Regions from separate parts of the Homo sapiens genome. Here regions 2 and 3 are each linked to region 1. The links come from fine-mapping of genetic effects on gene expression. A gene starts in region 1. Each other region holds a variant in brackets. All regions are shown on one strand. Distances are between the middles of the regions.

Region 1 (2,760 bases):
AATTTACACCTTGACTCTTTCTAAAGGGAAGTGAGGTGGGAGCAATGATATTAATGGTGAAGAACTGGACTGGGATAAGTTACAAACATGCTTGACTTTCCCCATAAGGATTACAGAAGGATGTTTCATTCATTCATTCATGCTGTGAGACAGCCTGGGGATACTCATCTTAAAGCACAGTCCTTCCCCAACAGTCTTAGGAATAAATCCTAGAGTGGGCATCTAGCCCAGTGGTTACGGGGAGCTTGGGTGGGGTGAGTGGAGTAGCATCTTTGGGAAGGGTTCCTTCCCCTGGAAGGTGTGACTTTGTGAGCTGAGTTTTAAAGGTTGAGTAGCAGTTGGCAAATTCCCTGGAGAGAGCATCTCAAATCTTTTGTGCTGAAGAACCAGCCATTTTTGTTCCCAGTCGGCCAGGTACCAATACACTGCGGCGCCAGGTGTGACTCACCACGTGAGTCTGACAACACCCAAACTGGTTTATACTCGGTTCAAAGAGTCCACTGATCATGTGCTTGGATGTCGTGGCATTATTAAATTGCTACAAACGTTTACTCTTAATTTCTCTACTTGTTACAAGCTTTCGTTCAGCACAGGACCAGGTAGCACCTGAGGGGCACCTGGAAAGCAGATTGTTCCAGCCTGCGTTCTAACAAGGTTCCCAGGTGACCCTCGCACAGCATAAAGTTAAAAGAACTGCCCTAGGGGAAACGGGACTCAGTGCCAGGTGGGTTTGATCATTCGTCCATCTCAGTGCCATCTGCCATCTCTGCTTCCTTGAGGTCTAGAAAAGGGTTACATTTTTAAAGGTGATATTGGCCACGTCCCCTTCCAGTTTCAAAACTACATTTCCCCGCTGTTACGCAAACGTCTTAAGCAAACCCGACTGCAGGACAGAAAGTCAACACGGGAATGCAGCTTCCAGAAATTCTGATTAGCCTCCGTCTTCCGCTTTGATCTGGCCCCGCAGCCCCGGCAGCTCCGCTGACCGCGCTTCCTTCCCGAGATTGCTAGTCTACCGGGCTGCATTAATGAGATCCGTGTTGAGCCGGTTCCCGGGTCTGCTAAACATGAAAGGCACAGAAGCCCCCAGTCCCTTCTCCTCCCCTCTAAGTGATTGTTTAGTCTCTCTCTGCAGAGGGAAGAGTTAAATCCCCTCCCCACGCCTACGTGGGAAGACCTGGGGAAACACGCGGCCCCCTCCCGGGTCCGCTAACGAGCCTGCGGCTGCTTCGGGCTTAGAGTGGGCGGGGCCTGGTCGGGAAGGGGGCGGGGCGCTCCGCCCGGGCGGGGCCAGACGGTGTGGTTGGCGGAGGGCCAAGCTCCTGGGGGCGGGGCCGCGAGCGGGAGGGCGGGGCCGGCTGCGGGAGGGCGGGGCCGGCTGCGGGAGGGCGGGGCGAGGTCGCTGGGCTGTAGTCCCGCGGGCGAGAGCTGGCTGAGCCGCGGCGCGGGACTGCTCACCTCCAAGCGCTCGCGCGGGGATCGCGGCTCCTGCTCACTTTGCGGCCCGCTGTCCTCCTGCCCGCCCCGAGGGCCCCCGGCCGGAGCGCAGAGGGAGGGGGCCGCGCTCGCCAGCACCCCGCCGCCTTCCCCCGCCTGGGGGAAGAATGTGCCACCAGCTGTTCTCCGCTTGCGAGCGCTGCGCCCAGTAGTGAGGAACTTGGAGGAAGAAGAGACAAAGGCTGCCGTCGGGACGGGCGAGTTAGGGACTTGGGTTTGGGCGAACAAAAGGTGAGAAGGACAAGAAGGGACCGGGCGATGGCAGCAGGGGAGCCCCGCGGGCGCGCGTCCTCGGGAGTGGCGCCGTGACACGCATGGTTTCCCCGGACCCGCGGCGGCGCTGACTTCCGCGAGTCGGAGCGGCACTCGGCGAGTCCGGGACTGCGCTGGAACAATGGATAACTTCTTCACCGAGGTAAGTGCGCTCCCAGTCCGACCTGGCCTCCGGAGCCCAGGGAGAGAGGCGTCTGCCCACCACGCCGCGCGCCCTGGGTACTTTTTCCTAAGCCCTGGAAGGCGCAACTTTCTGGGAGTCTCCTGAAATCACCCCCCATCCCCCCGCGGAGTCTCTGATGAGTAAGCCCGGGCAGGTTTTGTTTCGTCCTGTCCCGCGCTCGCATTTTGCTCCGGGAGGTAGCGAAGGTGCGTTTCCGTTTGCGTGGGTGGCTGGCTCTCGGGGCGCCCTGGGACACCCGCGCCAGGTGAGGCGGCGCGCGCCGGGGCGCGGGCGGGGCGATCCGCCCGCTCGACTGCCCGGGTGCAGGAAGCCCAATAAAATGTTCAGCGGGGACCTGCCTTTCTCCAAGAAAGGTCTTGTCTGGTATTTCCTTTGCAAAACGTGCGGGCTTCCTGTGCAGGGGTTCAAACACTTCCAGAGGAGACGGCTTAATGAAGTGTGAGAAGGAGAGGCAAGGGTTTAATCGGTTACTTTGCTCGCCGAGAAGTGCTCTTTTAAGGCTTGGGATAACTCCAGACCCTGGGATCAAATGATCATGTATTTGTGTAGAGTGTCCATGCAGATTTTGAATTCGAATGTAAAGAAAATTCGTTTAGGGCAAACAGTGGCTATTTTAATAGATGAAACGGATGCCCTCTTTAGGGTCGTTGAGGGTGGGACACTGAAACTTAACTTGAGAACCCTTTTTCCCCCTTTGGGATCGAGACTTACTGTGGTTTCTTGGCTCCCTTTCCTTTCTTGGTTGTGTTTATTTAATAAATTCTGTTTAAGTTTGAGGTTTGAAGTGGCTCAAAGTAAACTTAGTT
Region 2 (2,760 bases), 170 kb before region 1:
GACTTTGCCGCCATTTGGGCAACTCCTCACGTAGATGCTTGGCAAGTAACAGTCAGAGACAGTGTGCTATTGTTCAAATGCACAGACTGGATTCTGATGAGCTGGATTCTGATGAATCTCAGTTGTGCTACTAACTAACTGGAATTATGCAAGTCTCTAAACTTGTGTTCCCACTTCTAAACATTGTGGGCAATAATAATATCACCTCCCACATTGGGCTGTTGTGAAGGCTTAAATTAGTAAGATAATGAATATGATAAGTTTAACATAGTACCTGGCACATTGTAAATTAATGAATAAGCATCACCTATTATTACCAGCATAAAAACTTACCAATTAAAAAAAAGGGGGAGGGAAGACGGATTTGAGTAATAATAAAATGCTCAGAAATAGCTCCAGTGGGACATTGCCTTATCCAAGCCAGCTTCAGCACCTTCCCTAAGTCCTTTCCCCATTTCCAGCTGCAAAGAAGACTTCAGAGTCAGAAGTTTCCACTAGCTCTGAACAAGGGTTGGCAGCAGTCTCAGGGCCTCCATCCATCCAGCCCTCATTGGCTCCCACCCACATTGTGCCAAGCAGAGTATCCACAGGATATGGAGTCATCTTCCGTGGTCCCAGCTGGATTTGATTGCGCTGTGATGACTTGGCTGTTGCAGAGGCTAGATTGAAAGCATGTCTCAACTTCACCTCTTGAATGCAATGCTGTTTATATTTGCCTAATATTTTTCTCCCCCTTGGGTTATTTGAAGATCATGCCAAACTTTTGTTTCTTTTAACTGGATAGAGTATTCTATAAAGATATTTTAAAGCAGTTATTCTCATCGACATTTTGCAAATCTGGAAGAGAGTTTTTATAGCTATACAGCCGTTCTCTCACCATGGCCTGGCTCCACATACAGCAAAGTGATCCTTCTAACCCAGATCACGCCCCCACTGTACTCCAAACCACTCACTGCCTTCATCTTAGGATGGAAAATAACATCCTCAGATGGTTTACAAGGACTCTGCAATGTCCCCTTGCTCCCATGTCATCTTCCTCCACTCTCCCCCTGCCTTTCTTGCTAGCCCTTGAATAGCCCCAAATATGTTCCTGCCTTGAGGCCTTTGCACTTGCTGTTCCCTCTGCCTGGAATGCTCTTTGCCCTACATATCTGCACAGCTCACTTCCTTCTGTTGTCATTTCAAATGTCACCTTCTCAGGCAAGCTTCTCCTGTCATCCTACCACCTTACATTATATTTTTGTTTATTGATTTATTAGATGGCTCCTGCATTACAATGTAAAGTAGGTAACACGATGGCCTTGGCTGGCAGGGCTCACGCCTGTAATCCCAGCACTTTAGGAAGAAGAGGTGGGCAGATCACCTGAGGTCAGGAGTTCAATACCAGCCTGGCTAACATGGTGAAATCCCGTCTCTACTAAAGATACAAAAATTAGCCAGGGGTTCTGAGGGGGCACCTGTAATCCCAACTACTCGGGAGGCTGAGGCACGAGAATTGCTTGAACCCGGGAAGCAGAGGTTGCAGTGAGATGAAATCGCACCACTGCACTCTAGCCTGGGCGACAGAGCAAGACTCTGTCTCAAAAAAAAAAAAAAAAAA[T/AT]GTCCTTGGCTTTATTCACCACTGAATCACCAGCACCTAGAGCCCTGAAGACACGGGTCTCAATACATATTTATTGAATGTGAAAGGACTGACCTCCAAGAGATTCAACAGCAAGCAGGTCTCTCATTCTGACTGAAGATTTACTCATCCAATTCATTCATTGCTAATGTCTTCTTTATCAGTCTAGTTATCATTTTTTTTAAGCGAAAGCAAGTTTATTAAGAAAATGAAGGAATAAAAGAATGGCTACTCCACAGGCAGAACAGGCAGTCTAGTTATCATTCTTAACTTTCTTGTATACTTAAAAATTTCCTTCTGTGCTTCCCACACATGACTCCAGATTTCTTTCCTCACCAATATTCTGGGATACTTTATATCACCTTCTACTCCCTGACCCATTTTTACAATCGTCTGCAGAACACTACTTAACAAATTGTACAAAGACATCTAGCCTTACAAATGCCTCTATAGATCAAAATGTTTTCCAGGGCCGGGATTAAGAAAAAAAATGTGGGCTGGACGCAATGGCTCACGCCTGTAATCCCAACATTTTGGGAGGCCGAGGCAGGTGGATCACCTGAGGCCAGGAGATCGAGACCATCCTGGCTAACACGGTGAAACCCCGTTCTACTAAAAATACAAAAAATTACCTGGGCGTGGTGGCACGCGCCTGTAGTCCCAGCTACTCAGGAGGCTGAGGCAAGAGAAACGCTTGAACCTGGGAGGTGGAGGTTTCAGCAAGCTGAGATCACGCCACTGCACTCCAGCCTGGGAAACAGAGCAAAACTTAGGAAAAAAAAAAAAGAGGCGAGGGGGAAAGAAGGAAGGAAGGAAGGAGAAAGAAAGAGAGAAAGAAAATGCTTTTGGTTGGGCATGCAGTGACTTGCACCTGTAATTCCAACACTTTGGGAGGGAGGGGTGGGAGGATCACTTGAAGTCAGCAGTTCAAGACCAGCCTGGGAAACAGAGAGCTCCTGTCTCTACAAAAAATTAACAAAATTAGCTGGGCATGGTGACACGCACCTGTGGTCTTAGCTACTCGAGAGGCTGAGGTGGGAGAATCACTTGAGCCAGAGAGGTCAAGGTGGCAGTGAGCCAAGATCAGCCATTGCATTCCAGCCTGGGTGACAGAGCAAGACCCTAAAAAAAAAAAAAAAAAA
Region 3 (2,760 bases), 29 kb before region 1:
CCTGGAAGGCAGAGGTTGCAGTAAGCAGAGATCACACCACTGCACTCTATCTTGGGCGACAGAGCAAGACTCTGTCTCAAAAAAAAAAAAAAAAGATAATCCAGGTAAATTGCACAAAATGAAGTAAGTGTTCAGCAAACGTCTTTAATGTTATGTAAGATTTTCGATTTTCCCTTGTATTGTAGAGTATGGAGCTAGATAATCAATAAATTATTTTGGTGGTCAAGAGTACATTAAAAAGGATCATCTATCTCTTGTCAAACTTTTACATGAGATAAACGAAATGATGAAGAGCTCAGTATACTCCAGATGTTGCTTAGTGCTTGGAGACTTTGGCTACAAATTCCTTTAAAATGTGAGTTTGCATGCCTTTGCAATTTTCTCCCTAACAAATGGCATTGATTCAACATGACTTAGGTTGCAAATACCAGACACTTTTTGATTACTTTCTTTAGTGTCACCTGGCTATCTTAATTGATAGATTAGGAGCAGCAGATCATCAGAGAAGCCCAGGAAATCTCACCATTTCTTTTTGTTTTCTCTGTCTAGGGATTCCAAGTCTTCTGTGTAAGGACATATTTAGAATTCCAAAAGGAAGAGGGGAAAAGAAAAAAACCCTTCAAAGTCACTAATCCAAGATCTTCTGATATTACTTTTAGAGTACTTTAGAGTACCTTTAAAGAAAACAAACTTTTAAAATTCCCCAAAGGACAGCAAGACTATTATTTCTGATAGTTGTAGACTTACTTAAACTTTCATAAAATATTTACGTTAAAAAATCTAAAAGGATGGGGTATGATAATCGAGTTTATTTTTATTTTATTGATCAGTTAATCAAAATAAAGTCCTCTTCAATATCCTTCAGACTAAAGTTTATGCTGACTTTTTGGATGAAAAAAATATATATAATCTTTCCTATCTAACAATATCAATGATATAAAATCATTATTGTTTTCATCTCTAATTCTTTAATTGTACTTATGTGACATATTATATTTACTGAAGAAGTCATCCAACATGGCCTACACATCTATCTTTTAGAGTTTTTTGGTAGAGGATATCTGTCATTCATTTGGGTGGCAGAATGAGGAGTCAGGGCATAATGAAAGGCTGAGTGCCCCGGCACTTTCATCTTTGCACTCATTTTCTGAAGTGCATTCCTTCACGAAATCTCAGTCGGCTCCTCCCTTCCTAAAATAACACTGTGACACTTCAAAATCTACCTCAGCCCTCCCCCACTACCCTAATTGCACATAAAACCACTAAGGGC[G/A]CTGTCAGGGCTGGCTACATAATTTATGGGACCTGGTGCAAAATGAAGATGCCTGACCTCTTGTTCCATATGCAGTGGGGGAAGTACCATTAAAAGAACTCAAGAAAAAGCTTTTTCCTTTCTTCTGTACTCTGTCCCTTCACTTGTCATAATGTTTTTTATTTGCTCTTTAATGTCATTCCAAGCTAAACAAAAAATTAAAATTTTAAATTAGGGAGGCTGAGGCAGGAGAATGGCATGAACCCAGGAGGCGGAGCTTGCAGTGAGCCGAGATCATGCCACTGCACTCCAGCCTGTGCGACAGAGCGAGACTCCATCTCATTAAAAAAAAAAATTAATTTCACCATTTTATTTATTTATTTAGAGACAGTGTGAGTCTTGCTCTGTCACCAGGCTGGAGTGCAATGGCGCGATCTTGGCTCACTGCAACCTCCACCACGCTCGGCCTCAACATTCATATTATATCGCACAATGCCCATTTTAAATGAAAATGTCGTGGCTCACGCCTGTAATCCCAACACTTCGGGAGGCCAAGGTGGCCAGATCACCTGAGGTCAGGAGTTCGAGACCAGCCTGGCCAACGTGGTGAAAGCCTGTCTCTAGTAAAAATACAAAAATTAGCTGGGCGTGGTGGTGGGCCCCTATAATCCTAGCTACTCGGGAGGCAGAGGCAGGAGAATCGCTTGAACCTGGAAGGTGGAGAAAGTGAAGGGGAGGGGAGGGGAGGGGAGGGGAGGGGAGGGGAGGGGAGGGAAGGGAAGGGAAGGGAGGGGAAGGGAAATGTTAGAGCATTTAACTCACGCAGAATCACCAAATTACACGGGAAGGGAAATGTTAGAGCATTTAACTCACGCAGAATCACCAAATTACACACTTCATTGTGCACGGATCATGTGTATTTTGTTCTGTCCTTACAAGAACTATGAAGGGCTCGGGGCGGTGGCTCACCCTTGTAATCTCACGGCTTTGGGAGGCTGAGGTGGAAAGATTGCTTGAGGCCAGGAGTTTAAAACTTGCCTGAGCAAGAACACAGGGAAATTTTATCTCTACAAAAAATTTAAAAATTAACCAGGCATAGTGGTGTCTGCCTGTAGTCCCAGCTACCAGGGAGGCTGAGGCAGGAAGATCATTTATGTCCAGGAATTCAAGGCTGCAGTGAGCTATGAGCATACCACTGCACTCCAGCCTGGGTGACAGTGAGATGCTATTTCTAAAAAGTAATTAAAAATTTTTTTTAATGAAAAGCATATTAGTTTGTTTCCATGCTACTGATAAAGACATCCCTGAGACTGGGTAATTTATAAGGAAAAAGAGGTTTAATGGACTCATAGTTCCACGTGGCTGGGGAGGCCTCGAAATCATGGCAGAAGGTGAAAAGGACGTCTTACGTGGCAGCAGACAAGAGAGAATGAGAGCCAAGCAAACGGGTTTCCCCTGTTATAAAATTAAATCTCTTGAGACTTATTCACTACCACAAGAACAGTATGGGG

Which allele goes with the higher level. Positions count from the first base shown, and alleles are read on the strand shown. Sizes are in standard deviations (SD) of each study's normalised expression. Not every link is listed here.
For the expression in monocytes after LPS of the gene that starts at base 1,412 in region 1, AT is the high allele of the variant in region 2 and T is the other (moderate effect, 0.55 SD a copy in Kim-Hellmuth 2017).

Evidence for each region. PIP is the estimated chance that this variant, and not a neighbour inherited with it, causes the effect. A credible set is the group of variants that fine-mapping cannot tell apart.
Region 2: its variant is the best candidate, but not a certain one, in a credible set for the expression of MYO10 in monocytes after LPS (Kim-Hellmuth 2017, PIP 0.80).
Region 3: its variant is the best candidate, but not a certain one, in a credible set for the expression of MYO10 in monocytes (TOPMed, PIP 0.85).

The regions. Positions count from the first base shown.
Region 1 is chr5:16,934,940-16,937,699 of GRCh38, reverse strand. MYO10 (myosin X) reads left to right here and starts at 1,412. Exons shown (of 41, transcript NM_012334.3): 1 at 1,412-1,912. The coding sequence starts at 1,892.
Region 2 is chr5:17,104,079-17,106,838 of GRCh38, reverse strand. It overlaps LOC124900947 (a long non-coding RNA gene), which reads left to right. Exons shown (of 2, transcript XR_007058707.1): 2 at 1-811. Among named protein-coding and RNA genes, the nearest start is that of MIR10522, 51 kb to the left of the region's middle. The variant T/AT (reference allele first, on the strand shown) is at 1,601.
Region 3 is chr5:16,963,500-16,966,259 of GRCh38, reverse strand. No RefSeq gene overlaps it. Among named protein-coding and RNA genes, the nearest start is that of MYO10, 29 kb to the right of the region's middle. The variant G/A (reference allele first, on the strand shown) is at 1,271.